3 separate regions of the Homo sapiens genome follow, and regions 1 and 3 are each linked to region 2. The links come from fine-mapping of genetic effects on gene expression. A gene starts in region 2. Each other region holds a variant in brackets. All regions are shown on one strand. Distances are between the middles of the regions.

Evidence for each region. PIP is the estimated chance that this variant, and not a neighbour inherited with it, causes the effect. A credible set is the group of variants that fine-mapping cannot tell apart.
Region 1: its variant is the best candidate, but not a certain one, in a credible set for the expression of POMT2 in tibial nerve (GTEx, PIP 0.77).
Region 3: its variant is the best candidate, but not a certain one, in a credible set for the expression of POMT2 in lung (TOPMed, PIP 0.61).

What each region holds. Positions count from the first base shown.
Region 1 is chr14:77,275,692-77,282,945 of GRCh38, reverse strand. POMT2 (protein O-mannosyltransferase 2) reads left to right here. Exons shown (of 21, transcript NM_013382.7): 16 at 2,483-2,554; 17 at 2,866-2,925; 18 at 3,018-3,123; 19 at 4,077-4,217; 20 at 4,438-4,552; 21 at 5,465-7,254. The coding sequence ends at 5,570. Among named protein-coding and RNA genes, the nearest start is that of NGB, 8.1 kb to the right of the region's middle. The variant C/T (reference allele first, on the strand shown) is at 3,913.
Region 2 is chr14:77,317,096-77,323,923 of GRCh38, reverse strand. It overlaps POMT2 (protein O-mannosyltransferase 2), which reads left to right and starts at 3,041. Exons shown (of 21, transcript NM_013382.7): 1 at 3,041-3,490. The coding sequence starts at 3,243. It overlaps GSTZ1 (glutathione S-transferase zeta 1), which reads right to left and starts at 2,888. Exons shown (of 9, transcript NM_145870.3): 1 at 2,741-2,888. The coding sequence starts at 2,755. RefSeq lists enhancers at 2,225-2,274, 1,806-2,667, 2,545-2,814 and silencers at 2,895-3,274, 3,505-3,554.
Region 3 is chr14:77,394,304-77,401,557 of GRCh38, reverse strand. It overlaps NOXRED1 (NADP dependent oxidoreductase domain containing 1), which reads left to right. Exons shown (of 6, transcript NM_001113475.3): 6 at 6,753-7,254. The coding sequence ends at 6,927. Among named protein-coding and RNA genes, the nearest start is that of SAMD15, 21 kb to the right of the region's middle. The variant T/C (reference allele first, on the strand shown) is at 3,970.

The DNA.
Region 1 (7,254 bases), 41 kb after region 2:
AAAACCTGTGTTCTGCAGGAATAATGTTTAAGAATCACTATCTCAAGCCAGATATGTGATTATCACTCTACCCACAGCATTGCAGGGAGGTGTAGCACTTGTTATTTTTCCCCTGGTAAGCCATTGTCAAGTGGACTTCCCTGGAAGTGATTATGTAAGCAGTACTCAGTACATATAGTTGACTTATTTCACCAGATTAAATTTTAAAAATTCAAATTTTGTCATTTTTGCGCATTGGGAGGTGATAAGTTGACATTAAGCATCTCTGGGTCACTTCCTTTCTGACTCTCTGCTTGTAGCTGTCACTGTGGCCTGATGACATAGCTCTTTTGAACATGTGCCTGTCAGTCAGAATATCATTCTGGGCCTGGGTCAAATTTTAAGACTAAATCTACGAGTTTCATTTTGTCTTTCATTATCTAAGAAGTAGAGTCAGAGAAGAAAAGGGAAGTAATGAGAGCTTTCTTATTCAGCCAACAAAGAGTCAGGGAGGGGAGAGAGATGAAAACAGTGAGTCCAGACTATAGAAACTGCAGGGGCAGGGCTCTTCCGCTGGCTGAGTAGTGGCCCGGGACCTGGAGGAGAAGGCTGCCTTGCCTGGTGCAGTTACAGGAATGAGCCCATCCAGATTTCAGCCATAGAGAACAACTTACAAGTACATATGCCTGTGATGGTTGCAGATTTTTCTTTCCTCTTTTAGTTTAGCAACAGAGCAGGATTTCTCAGAGTTTAATGTAGTGAATAAGATTCCCTTGGCTTGGTACAGTTCTGGCTGGAGTCCTTGGGTTTGGGACCAAACTGTACAATTTGAAGGAATTGGTTTCCCTCAGCAACTGCCGCAGGGGTCCAGAATGATTCATTCCTCATTCCCAGGTCCTTCAAAGGGCCGCAGTGACGCTGGGGCCGTGCAGCTGTCCCCTTTGTGTCTGATGCCCTGGATGCACTTTTGACCTTGGAGGCACAACCTCTCCACCATGTAGAGGCCTGTAAACTATTCCCAGCCCCTTGCTGAACTGGATTCATAAGGCACTGGGTGGCAGTCCACTGAACTTTCTGGGTCTTTCTTAGGCTATACCAGTGGTTCTTAATTGAGGGTGATTTTGCCTCTCGGGACTTTTGGCCATCTGTGGAGAAATTTTTGGCTGGGAAACTGAGGGGTTGAGGGTAGGAGTGCTACGGGCATTCAGTGAGTGGAGGCCAGGAATGCTAAACACTCTGCAATGCACGGGACAGTCCTCACAGCAAAGACTCATCCAGCCCGAAATGTTGGGAGTGCTGAGGTGGAGAAGCTCCGGCCTAAGTCATGGCAGCTGACTCCCCTTCTGGGGAAATGCCTTTTCAGTCTGTCCCAGTGATAAGGCAGAACCCAGTCCTAGTGGTTAATATCCTGGATCCTGACCCTACTCCTTCCTGTTTTAGCAAAGACCTGGTTTGCCCTGTAGAGAAAGGTTAGCAGATGTTCTTGGCTGCTGGATTAGGGAGGCTGAGTCTGGGTCCTTCAAACCAAAGCATGCATTAGGGTTGATTTCTCTCCCAATAGATGAAATGTGTTCTTGGAGGGCAAAATATCTAATTTTTTATGTATAAAGCACAAGTAAGATGTACAGTATAAAGTATTAAAATGTCATGGAGTGTGTTTAGGGAGAAACTTGTCTACAAAGGCTCCTGGTAGAGGGGCAGTAGTGGAAAAAAAAGGTGGAGAAGCACTAAGCTAAAGCAACCTCTTCCAAGTCTAGGCACGCATGAGAGTTTCTGCTTTTCTGTTTGAAATTGGCCCCTGAAGGGAACAAATAAGTAAGCCTTATTATTTATTTATTTATTTATTTATTTATTTATTTATTTATTTATTTTGAGACTGAGTCTTGGTCTTTTTGCCTAGGTTGGAGTGCAATGGCATGATCTCAGCTCACTGCAACCTCCGCCTCTTGGGTTCAAGTGGTTCTCCTGCCTCAGCCTCCCAAGTGGCTGGGATTACAGGCACCCACCGCTACGCTCAGCTAATTTTTTGTATTTTTTAGTAAAGACGGGGTTTTACCATGTTGGCCAGGCTGGTCTTGAACTCCTGACCTCAGGTGATCCACCCGCCTCGGCCTCCCAAAGTGCTGGGGTTACAGGCATGAGCCACTGCACCCGGCTGTAAGCCTCATTTTATATCCCCTCTCTCCCACCATTTTCACACCTTGTCCTTAGCTTGGCAGATGGGTATATATTTTGTGCCCATTGGAACAATTTCCTCTTTCCCTTCTTTTTCCCTAGAAGGTTGGAATGGACCCCTTATGGGAGATGGAGGCTTGTCTGGGAGAAGTAAAGCAAGTGTCGTAGGTAGGCAGACAGCAGCTGCCTGATTCTTCCCTGCAAGGGAAGGGAAGGAGAGAAGGTTCTGCTCGGCGCTTGGCCCTATATCAGAAAAACCTGGGCCCCACATTTCTGTCAGCCCTCTAGATCTCTGTCTTGACTAGCTTTCTTTGCTACCTTCATGCAGGGGAACAGTGGCCTCAAACCCAAGGACAATGAGTTCACGTCCAAACCCTGGCACTGGCCTATCAACTATCAGGTAGGATCCAAGGCTGGGGCTCCTCCCAGGAAATGGAGCCAAGAACAAGAGCAGGGAGACCGGTGGAGGCGGGGGTGGGTGTACTAGGGCGGCAGGGCGAGGGGCCTCCTGGGATGGGTTGGCCAGAGGTGGGAGTATCTGTTTTCTGCCCTAATTCTGACCCTGCTTCCCAGAGAGCTCGTGTAGAATTTGCCAGCCTGAGGTTCGTGTCCAGGCTCCCTGTCTGTGGAAGGTGACCATCTTCCTCCCCCTAATGGGTGTGGCCGAGGATGGGCTGGGCCTGGGTCAGCAGGGTGGTCTCTATTCCACAGGGCCTACGCTTCTCAGGGGTCAATGACACAGATTTCCGAGTCTATCTGCTTGGCAACCCGGTGAGTGCCTAAACATTCCCGGCTCAGGCCCTGGAGCACTTGCCCGTGGAGAGCGGCTGCGTTCTCATCTGCCCATTCCCATTTCTGCACAGGTGGTTTGGTGGCTGAATCTGTTGAGCATCGCCCTCTACCTCCTCTCAGGGAGCATCATTGCTGTAGCCATGCAGAGAGGGGCACGGCTGCCAGCGGAGGTTGCAGGTCAGGTCCTCTGGGCTCTCCCTCCCCTGACCTGGCGGCAGCAGGGCACCTGCACCCCTGGGGAGGGCCGGCTGCCTGCTGATGGGCCATCCTTTGCGTTTACCACCCCACACCTTCCCTTATCCTTTGCTTTTGAAAGGTAACAACCCCCAAGTACCCAGTGCTGTGTTAAACACTTTACTTCCTCCCAACAACACTAGAGCGTTGGCTATTATGACCCCCATTTTATGGATTAGGAAACCAAGGAACCATGAGATTAAGAAACTTGCCCCAGGACATACAGCTAGTAAGTGATAGAGCTGAGGCTCAAACCCGTGCAATCTGACTCCACAGCCCTCACTTTTAGCCCCATGCTGTGTACAGAGCTGCCCATCTTTTCTGCCACCTCCTTGTTCCATGGCCCTGTCCTCTCATGGGCTAGAGAGGAGCCTCCAGGGTTATTGAGTTCCCATCCCAGTGCTGTTCTTGGTAACTTTGGCTGCCAGACCATGGGCCACAGCACCTGAGACAGTCACACAGGCCCTTTTGCCTCTGCAGCTCTCTGTCTGAACAGTCATAGTCCCAGACACCTCCTCACTCCATCCTCACCTGTAACCTCACCTTAGCGCCTGTCTGCCGCTGCAAAGATCTGTGTGGCAGCAAAGATGTGGGAGGTGGAAGTAGGGAGTGAAGCTGTCTGCAGGCGCAGAAGGGTTTCTTTAGAGGCTGGGCTGCCTCCTGCTGGTGCTTGGTGCACCTGCCATTGGTGCCCAGGCCTCACTAGGCTGGGCCCTGACCAGAGCTCTCGAG[C/T]CCCAGCTGCTCCTCTCCAGTTTCTGTAGCGTGGTTTGGGTTGGTCCAATGAGGTGATATGACATATTCAAGGTCACACAGCAAGGAAGGGGCAGAGCTGGACCAGAGCCTGGAATCTCTGCCCGCTCCTTGTCTTCTGACTGGGCTGTGCTGCTTGGGCCCAGGGTTGTCCCAGGTCCTGCTTCGAGGAGGCGGCCAGGTCCTGCTCGGCTGGACACTCCATTACTTCCCGTTTTTCCTGATGGGCCGGGTCCTCTACTTCCACCACTACTTCCCAGCCATGCTCTTCTCAAGCATGTTGACAGGTCAGTGCCACCCACCTGGACTTGGGAGACAGAGCAGGTGGAGGGCGGGCCACTGTTGGGCAGCAGTGCTGGGAGTGACTCTGCTCCTTGACGGGAGGCCACTGTGGGGCAGCAGTGCTGGGAGTGACTCTCTGCTCCTTGACTTGGAGTGCCTCCTTCTTCTGTAGCCCAGAAGTCACCCCCTGCCTGGCTGACTCCAGGTTTCTCTCCTCTCCTCTAGGCATTCTGTGGGACACCCTCCTGCGGCTCTGTGCCTGGGGCTTGGCCTCATGGCCCCTGGCGAGGGGCATACATGTGGCGGGAATCCTGAGCCTGCTCCTGGGAACTGCCTACAGGTGAGCATCTCTGCACCTCACATGCCCTCCCAGTGTGGGCTCAGCAGTGCCTCAGCCCTGATGCATTCGAGAATCCCCTGCGGTGCTTTTAACACCACCAGTGCCCATGCCTGGAGGTTCTGCGTCACCCAAGCCCAGGTGGGGCCGTGGTTTCCAGAGTCCCCCAGGTGATCCTAATGTGCAGCCAGGTAGGAGAAGCAGGGCTTAACTCTGCCTTTTCCCCTTCTGCCGGTGGTTCAGCTTTTGTGCCATCCCAGCGCACCTGGAAGGGTACCCCTCTAGTGACAGTGACTCTGTGCCAGAACAGCTCTCAGAGGGGGAGTGTGGGAATGGGGGGCAGGGAACCCCTCTTTAGTCACCATGGCCCCCTGTCAGAACAGCTCTCCGGGTGAGGGAGGGGGGAACCGGGGGGCAATGGGGGACAGGGCACCCCTCTTTAGTCACTGTGGCCCCCTGCCGGAAGAGCTCTCGACGGGTGGGGTGGGAAGGGTGGGAATGGGAAGTGTGTGGCTGAGTGGCTGAAAGGGAGAGTTGTTTGGAAGGCTCCCCGCTTCCCCAGTCCCTGGCCTTGGTGCTGGGCCTGTGGCCTGTGAGCACATGCCTGCCTAAGAGGGTTACATTCACATGTTGACAAACACCCCTGGCCAAATAGCCCATGACAAGACCCCTAGAAGGGTTGCCCTCCTGGGCCTCTTGGGAAGAGCCCTTTCCATGATTGTCATTGAGTCAGCATCTACTAAGCTCTCCAGCTACAGTGTGCCCCAGTGGGACTCAGACAGACAAGGCCGTGAAAGAGAACCGGGCTTGGCGATGGGGAATTTCTCTGGAGCTCCAGCAGGAGGAATGGAATTCAAAGCCCCTCAGCTGAGGCACTGGGGGTGCCAACTGCCTCCTACTGGTTCTCTCTCACAGCTTCTACCTCTTCCACCCTCTGGCTTACGGGATGGTTGGTCCCCTGGCCCAGGACCCCCAAAGTCCAATGGCAGGACTAAGGTGGCTGGACTCATGGGACTTTTGAGGCCACTGCAAAGATTCCAGCCTGGGTCCAGGAACTTCCCAGGAGAGCCAGCTGGGAAGCAGTACTGGACCATCCGGCCATGAGGAAGCTGCCTAAGGAGCCCGAAGAATTCTGCTGCTCACCAGGACCCAGCTCTGGGAGTGCAGCTGGAATGGAACCCAGCATTGGAGAGAGCCGGGAGAGAGCCGCAGCTCCGTCCACAGCACCACGGAGAGGACAGCGCCTCTTGGGCTGCTCCCTCGTGCACAGCGCAGGGGAGGATGGGTGCCAGAGGGTGGGAGTGGGTGCGCGTGTGTGTATGTGAGGGCATGTTGTCCATATCCCTGTGGAATACAGACCGTGTAACTGGACAGCTGAGTGTCATAAACTCTAAAATAGTCCAGGCTATAGTAATATTTTCTGGTATTTTTTTCTGTTGGATTTCTTTGGTTTTGGTTTGTAAGATCCATCAAAAATTCTCAGACCTCTGAGAGGGCCTTGAGGGCAGAGAATACTGACCTCACCTTGGGATGTCACCAAAGGCAGAGCAGATGGGACTGTCAAAGTTGTGCTGCCCTCCCTCCCACAAACAAATGAATCCAGCGTGGAGGAAGGCGCGCCGCCCCGAGCTGGAGGGCCTGGCTCCCACCATGCCCCCCAGTGGCTGCAGGTAGCTGGACTTCCTGCCTGTGACGCACAGAGAGCAGCGGACTCCGGAGCGTCAGCCTGCCTTAGCCCTTGGTTCCTCGTTTTTTGGGATTGTCACACTGTGACACTCGGGAGGAACGATGTCCTATCCTGGGCTGCTCAGTGTTCCCAGGCCCTGTGTGCCAGAGGCCAGGTCTCTCCAAGTGCATCTAGCCTGGCCTGGAGGGCAAGGCAGATGCATTCTCCTGGCTGCTGGGAGAGCCCATGGGAACCTTGCTTAGCGCCCAAGGTAGATGAGAGACAGGGCAGGGAATCTGCGTGGTGCTGGGATGTGGGGACTCTGGCCTCTCCAGACTAATGTTCCTGTCACCTGCTGAGCTTTCCCAGTGTCACTTCTGCAGTCCTCCTCTGCTCACCCCTCCCTCACTCCGTGGGCAATTCCCTTTCTCTCTGTCACTGCTTCAGCAGTGAAGACCCATGGCACCTAGAAATGCATGCCAGCTTCCTGCGTCTACCACTCTGCAGCTCAAACAAGAAGCTCAGAGCTGCCCCTTCCACTTCCTCCCCAAAAGGGATGAAGAAAACCCTGTGGTAGAACCAAACCACCCAAGGCCAGCCCTTAAGCCTGCCTCCACCTTCCTGGTGCATGACAAAATATTTCTTTTGTCTCAGAGGACTTTGATGCTTCAATATTTAATGATGAATCCGCCACACTCCATTTTCCCTCCTCTGAAGCTCCCAACAACTCTGACAGGGTCAGATCTCTTTAAAGCATCTTCAGGAGGCGGTTGCCACGGAGACTGGATATTGGTCCCAGGGACAGGCTGTGCTACCTACTGGGTGGTGGGGAGGGAAGCTTCTGGCCATGCTTGGGCATTCAGACCAACCATCATTAATGTTAATAGAGGAAATGCAGCAACGTCAAAAGCAAGGCAGGTTGGTTAATTAGATCTGGGGCCCGATGACCTCCCTTTCCCACTGCTACAGCCCTTTTGACTTCCCCCAGCAGGAAGCGCTGTCTGTGCGGCTGAGTCTGGGCCACTTGCTTAATTGCATT
Region 2 (6,828 bases):
CCTAAAATGATGGCAGGGCATCCTCTAGCAATGCAGCAAGACAAGGAATTCTAATTTTTTGACGCTTTGGTACATATCTCCTTCAACCCCACCTCCCAGCAGTCCTCCGGGCTCTCGGCTGTCCCCATAAAAACAGCTGGCAGATATGCTCACTCACCCCAAAGGTGAGGTCAAAAGCTGGCAGCTCACTGGGGCCCTATCTGGCCCTCAGAATTTCTGTTTGCTCAACACAGTAGTTTAAAATGTTTCAAGTAGTTGCCAATGTTTAAAAATCAGGACATTTCATTCTAGTATGGTGGGTCATGCCTGTAATCCCAGCACTTTGGGAGGCTGAGGCCAGCAGATCACCTGAGGTCAGGAGTTCGAGACCAGCCTGGCCAACATGGCGAAACAACATGGCTAAACAAAAATTAGCCAGGTGTGGTGGTGTGCATCTGTAATCACACCTACTTGGGAGGCTGAGGTATGAGAATTGCTTGAACCCAGGAGGCGGAGGATACAGTGAGCCAAGATCGTGTCACTGCCCTCCAGCCTGGGGGACAGAGCAAGACTCCATCTCAAAATAAATAAATAATAAAATAAAATAAAAATAAAAATCATGATATTTTATATACAACACCTGTTTGTTTTTTTTCTTTAAAAAAATCTGGAGACAGATTTGGGTTCCTAAATAGCAGCAATTGATGGGAACAGACTAATGGCCCCCATCAACCAGCGTATGCGCTCTCAGGTCTGCCATGGCCCATATCTGGCCCACTTTTCTCATTTTTGTTACCTTTGGGCCCTTGGGGGCAGCTGGGTGTGCGATCTCTACTCCAAGGTTTAAGGGGCTCAAAGTTAATTTCTCTGGTACTTCTTCGGGAGCCAGCATTTCAAAGTGGAACCCAGGAAAGACTCGCCAGTGATTAGCACTCATGAATCTTCCCACCAAAACATGTGTATCCCTATGGATAGGGGAGAACTTGAAAGAACTTCTCAGATGCCCTGTTTACTACCCCTCTGACTATAGACATTTCACCAAAGCTCCCTCTCCCCTCTGCCACCCCTAGCATATTAAGCTGCTCTCTGAACTTGCTATTGCCATCCCTGTACTACCAACTCAGTCTGCTAGATGGCAAGGGTGTAAGTGGGAACCTAGGCCCTTCCAAGATGGTTCCCAAGCCCAGCAGTCCCAGCCTGTCCTGAAGGTACCTTTTGTGGAGAAAGTAAAGATGGTCCTGGCACAGAAAGCAGGTGATGGGCAGAAAGTGTCTTTCGAAGAGGAGGAATTGGGTGGCCACAACTGGATCTTCCTTATTTGGAGATGCAACTCCCTTTCCTTACCTAGCCAGGCTACAGGGACTCCTGGTGCCAAGGGACAGGGACTGCTGGTGACCACTAGAGTGTGGCAGACATTAATTAGCTTAGAATCCCTGAAGAAATGCCTTACCTAATGGCTAAATGCCTTTGGATTACACCTTTGGATCTGTACTACGAGTGACCAGAAGCATGGTAAATGCTGCTGCCCTCCGTCACGACCCACAAGCAGGAAACCTGAAATCTCTTAGGCAATTTCTGCCTTCTCTTACCAGTGATAACTATGTAAACCATGCCCCGTTCCTTTCTGCACTTGTAGAACTAAACTTTAAGCCCAAGTATCCATCTCATCAGCACTCCTAGAAGACCTGTGTTTCCAATTCAAATATGCATTCTGATTACTTTAGCAGATTTTATTTTTAAACCATGTCTTACACATGATTTGAGAAAAAGACTCCTAAAATCCCATTTGGAAGAGGGAGGACTATACATTATTAACGTGACGCAAAGTCCCATCTAACGTGCCACCTTCCTTAGTGCCACAAAAGTGGTTCTCAAACTTCATGGCACGTTAAGAACCATCTAGACCGCTTATAAAAACATGCAGATTCTCGAGCCCGTTCCACCAGAGATGAACAGAGTGGCTCTGGAGCAGGCCCCGGGAAGAACATGTGAAAGCCGTGAAGCTCCCCAGGTGATTGTCATGACTGCCTCTCCTCGCTCGGGGCCTTTTTTTTTTTTTTTTGAGCCGGAGTCCCGCTCTTTCGCCCAGGCTGGAGTGCAGTGGCGCGATCTCGGCTCACTGCAAGCTCCGCCTCCTGGGTTCACGCTATTCTCCTGCCTCAGCCTCCCGAGTAGCTGGGACTACAGGCGCCCGCTACCACGCCTGGCTAATTTTTTTGTATTTTAATAGAGACAGGGTTTCATCGTGTTAGCCAGGATGGTCTCTATCTCCTGACCTTGTGATCCGCCCGCCTCGGCCTCCCAAAGTGCTGGGATTACAGGCGTGAGCCACCGCGCCCGGCCCGGGGACTCTTAAAATACAAACATTACTGGAAGGTCACCTCCTGCTAGGGCCAAGAGAAGAGCATGAAGGGCTGCGAGAAATTGGGAGGCTTGGGGCGACGTTTGGAAGCCTTAGTGGAGGGAGGGGTCTGTTATGGGGAGCAGGGAGGGCGGAGCAGAAGTGAAGCGCGACCGGACAGCGACTCCACCCTGCTACGCACTCCCTACCAGGACCGCCTCCTCTGGCCCAACCCTCCCGGAACTTCGAGCCCCAGCGGGCAGCGCGCAGCACGCAGGCGCAGAGCGTGCCCGGCGCAAAGCACTGCATGCCGGGAGTCGTTGTCGGCCTGGGCGGGCGGTGCAGCTCACTTCTGACCCCGCCCCCCAGGGTCTCCAGGTGTCTAACCAGCTTCCCTCCACCCGGGTGCGCGTCACAGACCTTCCCCGCCTGCATCTGGCACTTCGCGCGACCCCCTCCTCCAGGCCGAGAAACTTCGCGCCTGGGACCTGCCGACGACTAAGGCTCAGTGAGACTCGACGAATCAGGCCCGTGTCTTTCGTCCGGGTAAAGCGAGGGGCTGGACTAGAAAGATCCTTCCGGTCGCCTCTGGCTCGCCCAGCTCTCCCGCCACGCCCCGTACCTGGGGGCTGCTGGGAGTTGCAGTTCCCTGAGCCCGACCCCTCCTGCCCAGTCCCCCCCGCCCCGGGCCGGCCGGCCCTCCCGGTCCCGACATGCTCTGCGCCTCCTGCCGCCTCCTAGCGGCCCGGGCCGCGACCACGCTGCCCGCCCCGCCCCGAGCCCGGGGCCCCGCGCTCCGCTGCAGTGAAGGGCGTTGCATTTCCCGGGGTACCCCGAGCTGCCCTCTTGTGACTCCTTGGCGGGGCGGCTGGTCAGACAAAGTGTGCCTCCGGGCCGGAGGGCGACCCAGAGGAGGGGGAAGATGCCGCCGGCCACGGGCGGAGGCCTGGCAGAGTCCGAGCTGCGTCCCCGGAGGGGCCGCTGTGGCCCCCAGGCTGCTAGGGCCGCAGGCCGGGACGTGGCCGCTGAGGCTGTGGCGCGAAGCCCCAAACGGCCTGCTTGGGGCTCACGGCGCTTCGAGGCGGTCGGCTGGTGGGCCCTGCTGGCCTTGGTGACGCTGCTGTCCTTCGCCACCCGCTTCCACCGCTTGGACGAGCCGCCGCACATCTGGTGAGTGATGGGAGGGACTCGGCGGGCACCATGGCAACCGCGACGGGACGCCGCCCTCTGATTGGCCCGAGGGTACGGAGGGGGCGGGATCTATAGGAGGAGGGCCACGGTGGAGGGGAACTTGAGGTATCGGGTGGGTTGGCCTCTGGCGAGGTGCATTCTCTGGGAGGGGGATCGTTTTGCTCTGGTGGTGGGGCAGTGGGATTCTTAGTATCTGAGGAAGCAGCCCTCATGTCTTCCAGGTTATGCTACAGTGCATCACCTGGCTTGCAAATTGTGGCTTTTAAAGGTGCTTTCAACTTTCCAAAGAGAATTGCAAATTTTTGGGTACAGAATTTTCTAAGGCCTGAGTTCCTATGTCTGCAGGATTTTCAGGCATCAACAGAGGAGAAAATACCTAACTGTGTACCTTTATCCTATAGGGCAAGGACAGTTTGGGTGTTCAGGTATGGTGACCAAAGGATTTTATGAGGCAGAACTCTTCTTGTGAGAAGAGATTTATTTTCTTAAAGGTTTTAGCTTGTACTATCCAGATACTGGGTGTCAGAAATGGAATTCTTTAAGCAAAAAGCAGGCAAGAAAACAGACTGTCAGGGTTGCTTTATTTAGAAATTAATAAATTAGCTTGTTATTGTGTCGTGACTGCTGGCAGAAGATGAGACTCCTGGGTTAGAGACAAAGGACTTTATTACAGGAAATAGGATGCATGTTAGAAGCAGTTTCCCTTGCCATCCAAGTCCCACAGGGTGACGCTATGGGTTTAAATGGATGACTGCACAGGCAGTGGGTTGCATCCAAGTGAAGGAACGACAAGCTTGGAAAATCTGCTGTTTTATAGAAGGCAGTACGCAGACCTCCTCTTTGTCCTGGAGGGAGACACTGCCTCTTCTCTCAAAGTTGCTTGCTGCAAACACAACCATGAGAAATGGCCCAGGTGAGATGCAGTCAGGGCCTTGCATTCTTGGTATACCCAGAATGATGTGTAGAGGCACGAGCAATCTGACAGCCTCTCTCACTCCTCGATTCTATGGTCTTGGCTTCTAGCAGATTTTCACATGAATATACAACTCCCCTGGCTACTCACATCTTTTCAGTTTGTCCCTTACAGCATTTAATTAAGGTTGTTGTCAATGGGACTCTAAGCAGCAGAATAAGGCCAGCTTACAGTATTTACCTCAACCATGCCCTCCAGGGTCCTGGATTCAGCCACTTGTGAATAAGTCCTGGGGGCACCGAGGAATCTTATTTCAGACATCTGGGCTGCAGTCTAAGACCAGTCTATTAACCACTGTGACCTGTGCACAGGGGTTCAGATTGATCTCTGATCTTTGGTGTCATTACCAGTAATTACAATAGCCCACTACCCTTGTAAAAATTTTTTTAAGAAAGTAATTACCAGGCTGGGCGCAGTGGCTCACACCTGTAATCCCGGCAGTTTGGGAGGCCGAGGCGGGCAGATCACCTGAGGTCAGGAGTTCGAGACCAACCTGGCCAACATGGTGAAACTCCGTCTCAACTGAAAATACAAGACTTAGCCGGGCATGATGGCGGGTGCCTGTAATCCCAGCTACTCGGGAGGCTGAGGTGGGAGAATCACTTGAACCTGGGAAGCAGAGGTTGCAGTGAGCTAAGATCGCACCATTGCATTCCAGCCTAGGCGACAAAGCCAGACTCTGTCTCAAAAAAAAAAAAAAAAAATTAACTACCATGATTAATGGAAAGATATTTTGTGACCCATTCTTCCTTACACTAACATATTACTTGGAGGAGTGCAGGCCACTCCAGGATTTTTGTTAGATTTTTATTTGGATCACCATCAAATTTGATTACCATTACAGTGGTTTAAACCACATGGGCAGTGTCACTGAACAGTTGCAGCCTCAATCACTAGACAAGGCATAACCTAAGTAAGGCCCTTAGGATCTCAGGAGAAGCATGTGATTTGTATCAGCCGCATTGATAGAAGGTGGTGCTGATCTGTGTGTTTGCACACCTATGAGGGAGGTCTGCGTTTGGGAGTTGGTGTTGATGTCATCAGGCACGTGGGAATAGTTCAAGACTGGCCGTGTCCATGTGAGTTTTTGTTTTCTTTTTTTATTTTCTTTTTTATACTGACCTGCTAGATAAAGTTTTTATGTTTTCATAGTGAGATGACAAACTCAGCCACAGGTCAGATTGCCAGCCACAGTTGCTGCTTGACCTAGATGGACCATGTGAATGTTTGCCAGGCTTTGGTGCTGGATAGGGACAAAGAGAACATTGTTTCCCTTCTCTTTACATCTCCAGGGTCCTGTGGTGTTCCTTCCCCAGATGCCAGGATTGTTTCTTTCCTTCCATTGCTACATAATGAGTGTGTCCTACCCTAGTAACTATAACTTCACCTTTTCTCCATTTATCCCCTACCAATACGCAGGCCTTCTAATATCCAATTGTTAGAAAATTGACAGAGGCCCATTATGTCTTCTACCTTGACACATGTGGGCCACTGTAGGGGGACTTTAAAAGCACTATACCCAACCAAATGATCATTAACTTTATGTTCTGGCACCAGGCCATTCCAACAAGACAATCTAGTGACTGAACTAGAATTAAGTCTGAATTACATAGATAGCCTCCTCCTCCCAGCTGATCTGGGCTTTCTGTAAGGGGGAAGAAAGATGAATCATGGCCAGAAATGGTCAGGGGAGAATCTCACATTTTCAAAATAGGTTTATATAACCCTCCACCCCTTTTTCCTGATCATTACCCAGTTGGTAGGCAAAAGGAGATGACCCATTTCTGAGAATGGCTGCCTTAGGTGACCAAACTGCTTCAGTAAGGTTTGCAGACCAGGAGGAGGTTAAAAACATAGAATCAAAAATCTTTTTGAGTTGATCTTTGAGGGAACTGTTCAGTACTTGACAATGTCATGCCTGTGGATGGTAGGGAGTGTGGGAGGTCCATCGAATACCTTGGCTATTGACTGTTGACACTGTTGGGTGGCCATTGCGACAAAAAGATATGCCAGTGTCAGACTGTAGATGGTTTGGAAAGCAGAAAACCTGGCAGTTTAGTTTCAAGGGCCACAGTGGTATACACAGAGTCAGATAATTGGACTGGAAAAGCAACATCAGCACTGTAAACTGAAAAAGTATCAGCAGTAGCAAGGTACTGATGAGAGCCTAGAGAAGGGAACAAAGTCCTAATGTCAATCTCCCAGGAGCAGGTGTGGTCAGTGCCCCTTGCAATGTGGCTTCCTTTACTGCAAGACAAGCAGGCCAACTTTTGGCAGGAGTCACAAGTCTGGCACGCAGTGGTGGCTTCTGCCTCAGAAACATGTAGTCCCTTACGTTGTGCCT
Region 3 (7,254 bases), 77 kb before region 2:
CCCAGCTGATTTTTTATATTTTTTTGTAGAGATGGGATCTTGCTATGTTGCCCAGGCTGGTCTCAAGCTCCTGGCCTCAAGTGATCCTCCTGCCTCAGCCTCCCAAAGTGCTGGAATTACAGGCATGAGCCGTCACACCCAGCCTGTTCTGAGTCTTTTGCTCTTCCATTTAAACTTTTTTTTTTTGAGGTGGAGTCTTGTTCTGTTGCCCATGCTGGAGTGCAGTGGCGCCATCTTGGCTCACTGCAACCTCTGCTTCCTGGGTTCAAGCAATTCTCTTGCCTCAGCCTCCCCAGTAGCTGGGATTACAGGCACCCGCCACCATGCCCAGCTAATTTTTGTATTTTAGTAGAGATGGGGTTTCACCATGTTGGCCAGGCTGGTCTCAAACTCCTGACCTCGTGATCCACCCACCTCGGCCTCCCAAAGTGCTGGGATTACAGGCATGAGCTGCTGCACCTGGCCCCATTTAAACTATAGAGTCAATTTTTCAATATCCACAAAATAATTTCCTGGGATTTTGATTGGCATTGCGTTGAATGTGTAGTTCAGTTGGGAAGAACTGGCATCTTTATAGTATTGAGTCTTCTTCTCCATGAACATGAAATCTCTATATTTATTTTGTTGTTTTTAGACTTCTCTCATCAGTTTCATAGTTTTCCTTATGTAGATCTTGCACATATTTCATTTGATTTATACCTAAGTATTTCATTTTGGGGGTTCTAATATAAATGGTAATGTGTTTTTAATTTTAAATTCCACTTGTTCATTGCTGGTATATAGAAAAGACACTGACTTTTGCATATTAATCTTGTATCCTACAACTTTGCAACATACATTTAAACATTTGCCCTATTGCTTCACTAAGCCATTCTAAGTCATAAGAGACTATTCCTGTAAATTGTGTATTCAGTGAAAGGCTCATCAAAAACTCAGAAGAATAAAACCGTTTGTCTCTTATCTACCTATGACCTGGAAACCCCCGCCCCACTTGAAGTTGTCCCACCTTTCCAGACCAAACCAATGTACATCTTACATATAGTGATTGATGTCTCCTGTATTCCTAAAATGTATAAAACCATGCTGTGCCCCGACTACCTTGGGCACATGTCATCAGAACCTCCTGAGGCTGTGTCACGGGCACATAGCCACAACCTCGGCAAAATAAACTTTCTAAATTGACTGATGCTTGTCTCAGATACTTTCTGGTTTACAGTGTTATCTGTTAGATCAGTTAGGAGTAAGAAAAACTAAAGTTATCTTCACTTGTTCCTTCTTCAGTGCTCTTCTTTTCTTTATGTAGATCCGTGTTTCTGACCTATATCATTTTCCTCCTAAGGAACTTCTTTGAACATTTCTTGCAAGACAGGTCTACTGGCAACAAATTCCCTCAATTTTTGTTTGGTAAAGTCTTTATTTCTCCTTCACTTTAGAAGGATAACTTTGCACAGAGTTCTAGGTTAGTGATTTTTTTTCTTCCTGCACTTTAAATATTTCACTGCACTCTCTCCTTGCTTGCATGATCCTAAAAATCAGCTTTCTTATCTTTGTTTTTCTATGGGTATGGTGTTTTTTTTCCCTCTGGCTTATCTCAAGATTTTTTGTTTTTCTGTAGTCTCAAAATGATATGTTTAGGTATAGTTTCTTGTGTGTTTTTGTTATTTATCCTGCTTGGTGTCTTCTTGAGCTTCCTAGATCTGTGGTTTGGTGTCTGACATTAATTTGGGGGAAATTCTCAGTCATTATTGTTTCAAATATTTCTTGTGTCCTTTCTCTCCTCCTTCTAGTCTCATTATGCGCATGTTACATCTTTTGTAGTTGTCCCACAGTCCTTGGATATTTTGTTCTGTATTTTTCGTCTTTGTTTTCTTTGCTTTTCAGTTTTGGAGGTTTCTGTTGAGATATCCTCAGATTCAGAGATTATTTCCTCGGCCATGAACAGTCTACTAATAGGGGCCTCAAAGATATTCTTCATATCTGTCACAGTGTTTTTAATGAGTAGTATTTATTTTTGGTTCCTGGAACTTCCATCTTTCTGCTTCCGTAGTCTGCCGTCTACTTTATCCATTAGATCCTTTAGCATATTAGTCATAGTTATTTTATTTTTTGAGACAGGGTCTTGCTTTGTTACCCAGGCCGGAGTGCAGTGGCATGATCACTGCTCACTGCAGCTACAATCTCCCGAGCTCAAGTGATCCTCCCACCTCTCCCGAGTAGCTGGACCACAGGCACATGCCACCATGCTTGGCTAGTTTTTTTTATTATTTGTAGAGACTGGGGTCTCACTTTGTTGCCCAAGCTTGAATTCCTGGGCTCAAACAATCCTCCCACCTCGGCCTCCCAGATTGCTGGGATTACAGGAGTCACCTCACCTGGCCTCAGTCATAGTTATTTTAAATTCCCAGTCTGATTATTCCAGTATTCCTCTCATATGTGGTTCTGATGCTTGTTCTACCTTTTCAAATTGTGGGTTTTGGTGGTTTTTTGTTTTTTGGCTTTTAGTATGCCTGTTAACTTTTTCTGGATAGTCAGACATGATGTACCAGGTAAAAAGAACTGCTGTAAATAGGCTTTTTTTTGTTTGTTTTTGAGACGGAGTCTTGCCCTGTTGCCCAGGCTGGAGTGCAATAGCGCGATCTTGGCTCACTGGAACCTCCGCCTCCTGAGTTCAAACGATTCTCCTGCCTCAGCCTCCTGAGTAGCTGGGATTACAGGTGCCCGCCACCACACCCAGCTAATTTTTGTATTTTTAGTAGAGATGGGGTTTCACCATGTTGGCCAGGCTGGTTTCGAACTCCTGACACCATGATCTGCCCGCCTCAGCCTCCCAAAATGCTGGGATTACAGGCATGAGCCATCGCACCCGGCCTGTAAATAGGTCTTTAATAATGTAGTAAGGAGTTGAGGAGGGGAAGTGTTCTATAGTCCTACGGGTAGGTCTCAGTCTTTGAGTGAGCCTGTACTCTGGACTGTGAACTTCACAAGTGTTTCTCAGGATTTTTCTCCTTCTTCAGTGGAACAGGATGGCTAAAGTGGGCTGGAGTTGAGGAGCCCATTCCTCCTTCCACGTGGAAGGGTAGACCTGACTGGAACTGGCTATTTCTCTTCCCCCAGGTCAGTTAGGCTCAGATAAAACCCCAGAAGGTTTGGCTCTGGTTAAATAGTTTCTCCCAAGGGCAGACCTTGCTAAGAACAGAATGCTCTGCCATATTTCAAAATGGTTTATTTTCCTCTCCCTTTGATGGAAGCACAAGGGGATTTTTCTCAGATATCACTGAGAACCTGGTTGAGCTCCTAGAGGTAAAAATCATAAGTGTGAGGGTCCCCAGTGATTGGGTCCCCCAAGTCTGACATTTTTATTCTCAGACTTGTCCACTCTGAACCTCCAGCAATTTGTCAGTTACAGTTCCGGGTTCCCTATCTTGGCACTGGGTTCCCATAGAGGTTTCAGCTCATGGGTTTCTCCTCCAGCAAGCTACTTCTGAGCATTTGTGTTCTGGTCCCTGCAGTCTTAGGGAGAGTAGTTTGCCCTTGACCCTACCTCTCTTACACATCTAAAAGAGTTATTGATTTTTTAGTTCAGCTTTTTAATTATTGTTAGGATAGAGTGGCAACTTCTAGCTTCTTACATGTCAGACCAGAAACTGGAATTCAAGTATTTTTTTTTTTTTTTTTTGAGATGGAGTTTTAGCTCTGTCACCCAGGCTGGAGTGAGTGGTGCAATCTCGGCTAACTGCAACCTCCGCTTCCCAGGTTCAAACAATTCTCCTGCCTCTGCCTCCTGAGTAGCTAGGATTACAGCCAGTAAGCCTGGCTGACTTTTTTGTATTTTTAGTAGAGACAGGGTTTCACCATGTTGGCCAGCCTGGTCTTGAACTCCTGACCTCAAATGATCCGCCTGCCTTGGCCTCCCAAAGTGCTGGGATTACAGGTGTGAGCCACCGCACCCAGCCAAGATAATTTTTTTCT[T/C]TATTTTGAGATAAATACGGAGTCACATGAAATTGTTAAGAAATAATAGTGAAATCTCATGTACCCATTTACCCATTTTCCATCAATGGAAATAGATATTGCAAAACTGTAGCACAATATCACAGCCAGGATACTGACATTGATACAGTTAAGATATAGAACAGTTCTTTCACTAACGAATTCTTCATGTTGCCTCCTCACAGCTGCAAACTTGGTAACTTCTAATGTGTTCTTCATTCCTATAATTTTGTCATTTCAAGAATGTTATATAAGTGGAATCATATGTATGCCACCTTTTGAAACTGGCTTTTTTCATTCAGCAAGTCTCTGGAGATTCATCCAAGTTGTTATGTGTATTAATAGTTGGCTTTTATTGCTGAATAATATTCCACGGCATGGCTGTATCACAATTTGTTTAACCATTCACCTGTTGAAGGACATCTGGGTTGATTCCAGTTTTTGGCTATTATGAATAAGGGTGTTATGAACATTCATGTACAGGCTTTTGTGTGAACATAAGTGTCCACTTACCTGGAATGAATGACCAGGAGTGTAATTATTGTCATTTGGTAGTTGCATATTTATTTTTTTAAGACACTGCCAAATTGTTTTTCACAGTAGTACCAGTTTATATTATCACTAGCAATGTATAATCCAGTTTCTCTGCATCCTCACCAGCAACTGGTGTTGGCAATAATTTTTATTTTGTGATTACATCTATAGATCAATTTTTGGAAAACTGACATCTTAATTTTGTTGAGTTTTCCCACTCATTAATATAGTATGTTTCTCTAGATATTCTTTGCTTTCATCAGCATTTTATAGTTTTTATTATGCAAGTCTTGTACATGTTTTATTGGATTTACATCTAAGTATATCATTTTTTGGAGTGACAATAAATGAAAAAACATTTTCAATTTTGGTGTCCACATGTTTATCACTATTGTATATAAATACAATTGATATTTGTATGTTTATTTTGTATCCTGCAACCTTGCTGAATTCATTAGTTCTAGGAGGTTTTAAAAATAGATTCCTTGGGCTGGGTGCGGTGGCTCATGCCTGTAATCCCAGCACTTTGGGAGGCCGAGGCAGGTGAATCACCTGAGGTCAGGAGTTCCAGACTAGCCTGATGAACATGGAGAAACCCCATCTCTATTAAAAATACAAAATTAGCCAGGCATGGTGGTGCATGCCTGTAATCCCAGCTACTTGGGAGGCTGAGGCAGGAGAATCACTTGAACCCAGGAGGCGGAGGTTGTGGTGAGCTGAGATCACACCATCGCACTGCAGCCTGGGCAACAAGAGCGAAACTCCATTTCAAAAAAAAAAAAAAAAAAGATTCCTTGGAGTTTTCTACATAGATAATAATGTCATGTATAAATAGAGACGGTTTCATTTCTTCCTTTCCAATGTCCATGCCTTCTAATTTCCTTTTCTTGCCTTATTGCATTGCCTAGAACTTCTAGTACTATTCTGTATAAGACTGGTGAGAGCAGGTATCTTTGCCTTAGCCTTACTCTTGATTTTTTTTTTAACAGACAGGGTCTCACTATGTTGCCCAGGCTGGCCTTGAACTCCTGGGCTCAAGCAATCCTCTTCTCTCAGCCTCCTGAGTAGCTGGGACTACAGGTGCGCACCATCATGCCTGTCTCTCCTGATCTTTTGAAAAATATTGAAACCCTATGTCTTAAGGCTTTTTAACTTGAATTACACTATAGACTAATACTTAATGTTGCCCCGTTAGGTATTCATTTGCATATTAACTTTCCTCTCTGTTTTTTTAGAGATGGGGGTCTCACTCTGTAGCCCAGGCTAGAGTGCAGTGGTGTGATCATAGCTCACTGCAGCCTCGACCTGCTGGGCTCAAGCAATTTCCCACCTCAGCCTCCTGAGTAGCTGGGACTACAGGTGTGTCCCTCCACATCCAGCTAATTTTTTTTTTAATTTGTACAGATGAGGTCTCATTATGTTGTCCAGGCTGGTCTCAAACTCCTGACTTCAAGTGATCCTGCTGCCTTGGCCTCCCAAAGTGCTAGGATTACAGGCATGAGTCACTGTGCCCAGCCTACTTTTTAATCTATACAGCTAAAGAGGATATCTTAAAAGCAATTAGACTTCTTCCTTGCTTAATGTCCACGATCTTATATATGTTCTTTCTAAATTCGAGAAAAATATTCTGCAGCCGGGCGCAGTGGCTCACGCCTGTAATCCCAGCACTTTGGGAGGCCGAGACGGGCAGATCACAAGGTCAGGAGATTGAGACCATCCTGGCTAACACGGTGAAACCCCGTATCTACTAAAAATACAAAAAAATTGGCTGGGCGTAGTGGCGGGCGCCTGTAGTCCCAGCTACTCGGGAGGCTGAGGCAGGAGAATGGCATGAACCTGGGAGGTAGAGCTTGCAGTGAGCCGAGATCGCGCCACTGCACTCCAGCCTGGGCGACAGAGCAAGACTCCATCTCAAAAAAAAAAAAAAGAAAGAAAAAAAAGAAAAATTTTCTGCAAAGGGTGTCAATGTTAATATTATAATAATTCTTTAACAATGAATTCCTCTCCAAATGCACTTAGAGAAATGTACATAAGTGTGAGAAATCACCATTAAGTACACTTAAATCTACACATTGACTAGTTCTAGCTGAATTTCTAGTTTATGAAAAGGTATTAATGTTTCTAGTTTATGAAAAGGTAATGAGGAAAACTTTCTTTAAAAGATGTGTTTAACAGCCAAATCAGATATACTGAACAGACATAAAAAAGTAACAATATTTTTTTCACCTCAGGCCTTTCCCCTGGTTTGATCTGACTGCTGTGCAACTCAAGGAAACTCCGTTTAGCCAGCATCTCTCAAGTAGTCCTGTTCTCCAAGACCACCTTACCCATCTATACTGTGCTTCATTTGGCATCTCCCTAACCAAAGAACAGCCAGTCATTTCCACAGGCTTTCCATCCCAATAAGAGAACTCAGGAATCAGGATTTTTTCCCACTCACAGATTTTCCCTATAATAGTTGTGCCCTGATTATCACAATTGACTGTGGGAGTCTTGTGGCTGTATTGTGTTTGCCACATGATAGACATCAGGAATTATAAAACTGTACTGATGACTCTTTAAAATGTAGAATAAAACAAGTGGTCCTATCCATCAATATGTATCTGGCTCTCAGAAGCAACTAGTGAAACTACACAACCTAACTTAAGTAAGCTGCTCCCGCAGAAAAGTCTTGTTAATACAAATTATTTCTCTTCTAAAATTAAAGAAGTTATAATGTTATAAGTTTTAGAC